2 linked regions of the Homo sapiens genome follow. The protein of the gene in region 2 interacts with the protein of the main gene of each other region in a biochemical or structural test. Each region holds a gene or a part of one and is shown on either strand. Other genes may lie near its edges. The genes, in order: STAT1 and DOT1L.

What was found.
Region 1: the proteins of DOT1L (region 2) and STAT1 form a complex in vitro, tested with the Homo sapiens proteins (one study listed by BioGRID).

Annotation. Positions count from the first base shown.
Region 1 is NC_000002.12:191,007,512-191,011,322, forward strand, and holds part of STAT1 (signal transducer and activator of transcription 1-alpha/beta), read right to left. Parts: intron 2,939-3,811; exon of another isoform or gene 2,861-2,938; coding exon of another isoform or gene 2,856-2,860; intron 2,494-2,855; coding exon of another isoform or gene 2,493-2,493; coding exon 2,365-2,492; intron 1,633-2,364; coding exon of another isoform or gene 1,597-1,632; coding exon 1,452-1,596; intron 151-1,451; coding exon 52-150; intron 1-51. UniProt on the Homo sapiens protein: Signal transducer and transcription activator that mediates cellular responses to interferons (IFNs), cytokine KITLG/SCF and other cytokines and other growth factors.
Region 2 is NC_000019.10:2,226,288-2,230,098, reverse strand, and holds part of DOT1L (histone-lysine N-methyltransferase, H3 lysine-79 specific), read right to left. Parts: coding exon 2,972-3,811; intron 2,363-2,971; coding exon of another isoform or gene 1,752-2,362; exon of another isoform or gene 315-1,751; coding exon 307-314; 3' UTR 1-306. UniProt on the Homo sapiens protein: Histone methyltransferase. Methylates 'Lys-79' of histone H3. Nucleosomes are preferred as substrate compared to free histones. Binds to DNA.

The sequences.
Region 1 (3,811 bases), on a different chromosome or scaffold from region 2:
GAATACATTTTTATTTTATTACAGTTTATGTGTTCAATGAGAAAAAAGTACCTGATTAAATCTCTGGGCGTTTTCCAGAATTTTCCTTTCTTCCTTCAGACAGCTGTAAATGATCATAGACATCTGGATTGGGTCTTCCTGAAAATTATCCTAGATTTGAGTGGTTAGAACAAAAATAAATTAAAATGCAGAATGTTTACTTTATTGTGTATTGTAAGTTGATATGAATTTGTTTATATTCTCCGGGAAACCTCATCTCTCATCTATTAAATTCTATATAAGCTATGTTTGTTAAAATCAAAATATTTCTTTCACGAATTATGACAAAAATTGCTTTAACTTTCTAAGTGCAGGTACCTAACGTACTTTTTGATTTAAAAACAAGTATTTTCACATATGGTTCACATAATATTTTTACTTTAATATCTTTCCATATTTCTTAAGGCCAATTATCTTTGGTTAGGATCCCGAGACAATGCAAATGATATAAAAACTATACATGACATTCCTCAATGAATGCATCTGTTGGTCTAAGCTTTGAACTAGACCAAAGATATTCATCTAGGGTTTTCTGTTGCCATTGTCAAAGCTAGTTTGCAAAACACTACCAATAGCAATAATGGCTCTTTATACAGGTACATTCATGCAAGGTCTGTATGAGAACAAATTTCTGTAAAGTTAATTTGATTTCCCCACTCGTAAATAAAATCATAAATACATTCACAAAGGAAAAAAAACAACTTCCAATTACCTAAGCTGAAAAGTTCAGTTGTATTGTATGAAAGAAGAAAATGATAGCTTTCACCTCCATTAAAACAGAAAAGTTCTGTTATTACACAACATAAATATGATAGCCACCCCAAGGGCATGCTGGGAGTACATCTGAAGAACCCCTAAAACTCTATAGCATGTTCTCTCATGTCTGGATCTTTCTTTGACTTTCTCTTCCAGGAGAGGCCAACTCCACCAGAAGCAAGGCAAGGTGGAGTCTAGTTCCTGAAGTCACCTGACTTCCTTAGGTGAAAGTCAAACCTTTCCTGTTTTATTCCTCATTTGCATAGCAAGGACCTGAACCTAACCACTAATGTTCCCTGGAGCTTTAATGTATTACTATAGATCATTGCTCTTAAAATGTAGCCCCTTTTCTTTGGTTTAAATATTGACAATTTTTAGTAAAACAAAATTATAGCATCACATTTTTCTCAGGATTACTGATACCTAAGAGGTGATACATTTAACCCTAAAAATTCCTTCTGTGTTTATAAAATAAATTGGTATCTTATTTTACTTATGCTATATTTACTGATGCTGTAGAAAACATAAATGGAGTTAGTCTCTATTACTTCTCTAAATACCAATAAGTGTGTGCTCAATTGTATTTGCTGAATGAAGAAAACTGCCTTCCATAAACATGAGAACATTTCAACTAAAATACAAAAACCAGGTCATACCTGAAGATTACGCTTGCTTTTCCTTATGTTATGCTGTAGCAAGAAGTTATTCTCCAAAGAAAAGCGACTATATTGATCATCCAGCTGTGACAGGAGGTCATGAAAACGGATGGTGGCAAATGAAACATCATTGGCAGCGTGCTCCCTAGGAGATTTAACATTTACACATTTCATTCTAGAACTAAATGTCTATGTAAAACAGACAAAACAAATGTTGGTTTCCTTATTGAAATTATTAAAAATAATTTAAGTATTTTCTTAGGTTTATTTTCTTCTTTTGAAACTGACATTGCTTTTAGCAGCAGTTTATGTGGTATTTCTCTTATGTGCAATTAGCACAAAAAATTCTAAACTCTAAGAGATTGTGCATGACAGTGTTCATGGTGACTATCTCTGAAGGGGGAAAAGTCAACAGGGGACCCTTCACTTTCTATGTCAAATACTTTCAGGACGTTTTTAAATTAGCAAATAATAAATTTTAAAGTAGAACACCTATCAGTTAAAAAAAATCCCCTTAATTTTACTACCTTCTTCATATTTCTAATCAATGTTTAACCATTAATTTGGCTTTATTTCTTTTAAATTACTTCTTTCTATAGTCTGGATCCTAAGTTGGAAAATAATCGGTGTCAGTATTCCGTAACTTGTCCAAAGCATTTAGGAATATCTATCATAAATTAAATTTGGCAAAACTGTATAAAAGTGCTTAATGACTAATATACTTAACTTTGTTGAGACACTTTTTGGCTCAACTTTGTTGAGTCATTTTTTAAATCAACAAACTTTTCTACAACAAATAATTCCAGTGGCCATTGATGGAATTCATCTTCCAGTAAACATGGCCCCAAGTCACTTAATCAACCAGTACTTTTAAGGTGTAAACTTCTTCTTCTGTCTAGTGAATTTTCCTTACCAGTCTTGCTTTTCTAACCACTGTGCCAGGTACTGTCTGATTTCCATGGGAAAACTGTCATCATAAAGCTGGTGAACCTGCTCCAGGAATTTTGAGTCAAGCTGCTGAAGTTCGTACCACTGAGACATCCTATAGGGAAAAAGAATATACATTCTTTCTATGTATATGGAAACCATAGCTCCAAAGAAAGCCTTCCTAGCATCAGGTTGTACTCTTAAATATCTTGCTTAATCCAAAACATAGTTTGTCCCAGGAATATTTTATTTAAATGGCATTTATAGTCTAAAGCCTGTTTTTAATTGAGTTTGGGGATGAACTTTTTTTCTCCTCCACGAAACACATCTTCATGTCTTTGCTTATTGTCAACATATCAGGGCAGCCTTCTCTGGCCTCTTTTATTTAAACTGCAACCACCTCCCACCCTGGAAACATGCTCTCTCTTTTCCCTGGTTTATTTTTCTTCATAGTACTTACACCACCATCTGACCTACCACATATTTTATTTTCATTATTGTCTGTTTTCACCACTTGAAGGGATGGATGTTGGTGGAGGATTCTGTGCACTGGTGTATCCCTAGAACAATGTCAACCACATAGTAGGTATCCAATAAATATGCCTTTAAAATGAGTTTGTGATTTTATCAAATAAATACATGAAAAACATTATTTTAATTAGACTTGCTTTAAGACAAATCACAAGACTCTCCCAAAATTGCTCTCCTACAAATCACAGTACATTTGTAATTTAACTCAAATATTTTCAAACTTCTGTTTTATATTTATGATTCATATGGTAAAATTCATTATTTTTCTTATACACATTTAAAAAGATATATTTTCTTCTTTGCCTACTACAAACAATAAATCTGGCATAAAGAAGTAATGATTTTTAAAGATTAAAACATCATTAAATGTAATTTAAAAGGATAAAGTAACACTTAGCTTTTTGGATAACTGTTAAGTCCATTTTTACATAGTGATCCTAAAGATTCAAAATCACAACAAAAACTTGATATAAGCAAGTCCTAAAATTCATTAGGAAAACGGAGAGTCTCCCATGACCATCATGTAACTTAGGATTTATATCAGCACACAGGTGGCAATATGCAGAGCAGACACAAGTGAATCTTGTCCTGCCAGACCTCTGGGGAAGGAGTCTGGATTTTCAAGTAGGGCATGGAAGAGTGTGTATGCATACTTGTAGCCGAGCACATGTATGCAGGCATGAGGTCACGCCTACTCCACAAATGTCCTTCCAAAGGAGTGTGAGGAAATGTCTGGCCTATAAAGCTAGTTATCCTCATATATACCAGTAGAAACGGACCCAAGCCCAGCCCCTTGGCACTCCTGCTGAAGCAATTTGATTTTTCAGTTCAGTTTTATTTTACCTGAGTGGAAAAATCTGTGGCTGTCTCCCTCCCTGCTTGGTAACTAATAAGGATCTACC
Region 2 (3,811 bases):
AGCTCTCATATATAGATATTTATATTTCTCAATAAGTTGCCTTTTACCACTTAGATGGAATAAAATAAGTCAGAATTGTTTATACTTTTTAAAAAATGATAAATACTTTATCTAAAACTATCGACAGTACAAACTGGACCAGTCCCAGCCTCCTGCGGCGCGTGCCGCCGATTCACAGTGGAGCTCCCGTCCGTCCTTGCCTCTGCCGTCCAGGGGTGGGAGCCCGGCAGGCCGGCGGGCACCATGCCGCGGGCGCGAGTTGGTCCACACCGTCCTTGCATAGGTCTCGCGGTTGAGGTAGAAATCCTAGTTACCTGCAGAAGGGCACAGCGGGAAGAGCGGCCTGAGGTTACCATCGCGCCTGGGGGAGCCCAACACTCACCCAGGCTGGGGACCGAGGCCTCCCACGAGCACACACGCCACCTGGGGCCAGCACCATGACAGGCATAGTGCCAGCTCCTCTAACCACAACAGACGACGGGCGTGCCCCGTGACAGACCAGGGAGCCTGACACCTGGACACGCCGGCCAAGCTCCAGCCTTCCTCCAAAGGAGACACACAGCCGAGTCCAGCTAAAGCCACCCTACCTGCAGCTCATCTCCTAAGAGACCCAGCATAGCTTGTCCAGCCCGCAGGTGCCCGCATTGACCCGCCAGGCTGACCAGCCCTGGCCACAGCCTCCGCCTTGGCTCCTGGCTCCCAGTCCTCCTCTCCTTGCCCGGTGGGCTTTGGACTCGCCCAGGAAGGCCTGTGTCCCAGGGGCCCCTGAGGCAGAAGGCCAGGGGCAAGCAGAGGGCACCTTTGCACTACGCCGCCAGGCACGCCATGTCCCTGGAGGGCACGGGTGGCCAACTGCCCTCAGGGGTCAGCGGCCACAGTCTCCACAGCCTCTTGGGGGAGGAGTGAACAGGACATTCCCTGAAGGCCTCACATCATCAAAATCACTCCTGCTTCCAACTTCCTTCTGGTCTCAAAGGTGGGCACCGTCTACACTAACCTGCCCAGCTTGGTGCTGACATCTGAGCAGCTGAAAGCCCCTCGGCTGTGGGCCATGACCACAGGGCAGTGTGGCCATCAGCCGTGTCCAGCAAGGGGGCCTCAACACGCAGGGCACAGAGCTTGCCTCTCGACCCCGCCGGGAACCCATCAGCCCCCAGGCAGGCAGGGCACTTGGGGCTTCACTGGCTCCCTATGAGGGCATCCGAGGCTACTGGCCAGACAGCCCCGACCAGAGGCATCCAGCCAGCCACCCTGGCTCTCCAGGACCTCTGCAGCCGGCACCGTGCCTGCTACATGCTGGGCGCCTGGGGAACAGCACCAAGCCACGCCACCCGTCATGAGTGACCTGGGCCTGGTGCGGATGGAGCCCTGGAGACTGCTCTAGGAGCTAGAGCTCCCAGCCCCCTGGCCTGGCACCCCGTGAGCCTCGCCCACAGGGGCTGGCACAGCTGCCCCCAGGGCTGGCCTCAGTCCTGCGGCGTCACCGCAGGAACCCAGCTGCGGGCAGCTGGAACCCAACACACTCAGGCCACTCCATGGCTGGTGCCCGTCCTGTAGTCCCTCCTCTCGCGACCATCTCCCTGGTCTCCCTGGCTCTCTCCCTCTTCCCTCCTCAGGACCCCCGGAACTTCTGCCGAGCCCTGTGGCCGTCTTCTCTGCCAAAGGAAGGACAGTTCAGTGTCTGGAGTGAGCCACCGCGCAGGGCTCTGGCCTTACCTTACACAATACGCACTGCTAGCTAAGCAAGGTCTTTATCGCGGCTTAACCCCCGAAAGGTGCGCGGCATAGGGAGGCGGCATGCCGAGGGACACCCACACCGCGGACGGCCCCGTGGCGCTGGCCTGTGGGATCCCGGGCGCGGCCTGGGCCAGGGCCAGCCGGGGCAGGGGCTGGTGGTGCACCGTGAAGGAGGGGCGGGCGCCCTTGTGCGGGAGGGAGGTGAGCTTGATAGACAAAGAGGCGTTAGCAGGCGGCAGAGAGGCAGCAGAGGTGGGGGGCAAGAAAGCTTGGTTAGGCGGGAGGGACGCGAGGCTCTGCAGAAGCGCGGGCTCAGGGTTAGAGGCCAGCAGCGTTGGGGGAGGAGGCAAGGCGGCGTTAGGTGGAGGGGGGGCGTGGAGGACGGGCGGCCCCGCGGGGGACCGGCCCAGGTGCGCAGGCGGGGGCAGCGGGGGAGGCGGAGGCGGAGGCGGAGGGGGCGGCCGGGTCTCAACCGAGGCCGGGGCCTGAAAGGAAGAGGCCGAGGCGCTGGCCGCCGCCTGCAGCGGGCTCGGGCCCAGTGTGGCGCTGCCACATGCAGCCCCGCGGCCGACACGGGCTCCAAACGGATGAGCAGAGGCGGAGGGCACCGCGTGGTTAAAGACACCTGCAAATAGGAGAGAAAAACGCAGCTTCAACAAGCGGCAGCATCCAGGCAAGCGCAGAGCAGCAGCCGCAGGCTCACAAAAAGGGAAGCGAAACGGCGCCGCCAGGCGTGTGCGGGCACCAAGCACAAGCAGCGGCTCGGCCAGGCTCGTGGTGGCCCGCCCTCCGCCCTCCGGCCCCCCGCCCCGCAGCAGCCCCAGGGCCAGGCCGCTCCCCCCGGCGGCTCCTCTCCGCCCTGTCTGGGCAGGCACTGCGGGGACTCGCTCTTACCCAACACCAGCTCCCAGAGCCTTGCCAGAGCCCGGGCGGCCACACCTAGCAGGTGACCTCCACGGGAGAAAGTAATGCTCTGGTGGCCCTGCGCACGGTGGCCTTCTGAAAACAAGAGGGACGCGGTTACAACCAGAGAACCCAAGACACACGGACTCAGCGTGAGCCCTCTCCCCACAGGACTGGAGTTCGCCACCGTGCACGGATGGCGGGGGCCGGCCGGCACCAGGGGACCTGCAGCTCAGCTCCTGCTGCAAGAGAGTGCGGAAGGGAACCTGCAAAGGAAGGGGCCTCCGGCGGGGGCCGGGGCGGGGGGCGGACGGACGGCCGCCCTGCCTACCTCCAACTGTGCCGCCTGCCACCCCGGAAAAGCTGCCCATGGCGTGCGAGTTGGTCAGTCTGGTGGCAGCGGACGACACGTGCACCAGGCCTGCGGCGGCCGGCACAGAGCTGAACAGCGACTGCAGCACGGAGGAGCCGGCCACGGAGCCGAGGTTGGCCTGCAGGGACATGGGGCCGAGCGCGAACTGCGGTCCCGGCGGGAAGGGGCCCAGGAAGGACCGGTGCGTCTGGGCGGAGGACGCCGCGCCGCCTGCGGAGGACGCCGCCGGGGCCAGGCCGGGGCCGCTGAGGAGGCTTCCGGGAGGCACGGCCGCCGCAGAGATGAAGAGGTTGTGGCCATTCTTGAGGTCGACCTCGCGGTCCCGGGCCTTGGCGGCCTTGCCGCTCAGCAGTGGGGTCTTGTCCGTGGGCCCGCACAGCGGTAGGCCGCCCTCCCCTGCCTCCTTGCCGCGGCTGCCCTCGCCCTTCAGCCCAGCCAGGCCGTCCAGCTGCCTCTTGCTCAGGAAAGGGTTGGCGTCCGAGCCCTCCTTGCCGCGCTGCGAGGGGAAGCTCAGCGGGGAGCTCAGGCCGGCCGCCTCGGGGCCCTTGTGGGGAAGAGAAGCACCATCACTGAAGCTGTGTAAACTCAGGTCCGCGGCCAGGCCCCCGCCGAAGGTGCAGCCGTTGGCAGGGTTGGTGCCCGGGCTGAGTCCGTCAGCCCCCGACAGGGAGCCGGGAAAGCCTTTCCTGGGGTGAGCGGCCAGCTTGGCATCGGCAGAGGGCTCCTCCAGGGCGGGCCGGAACGTGAACAGGGAGTTCTGGCTGAGGGCGGAGCTGGCCTGCAGCGGGCTGTCCGCCG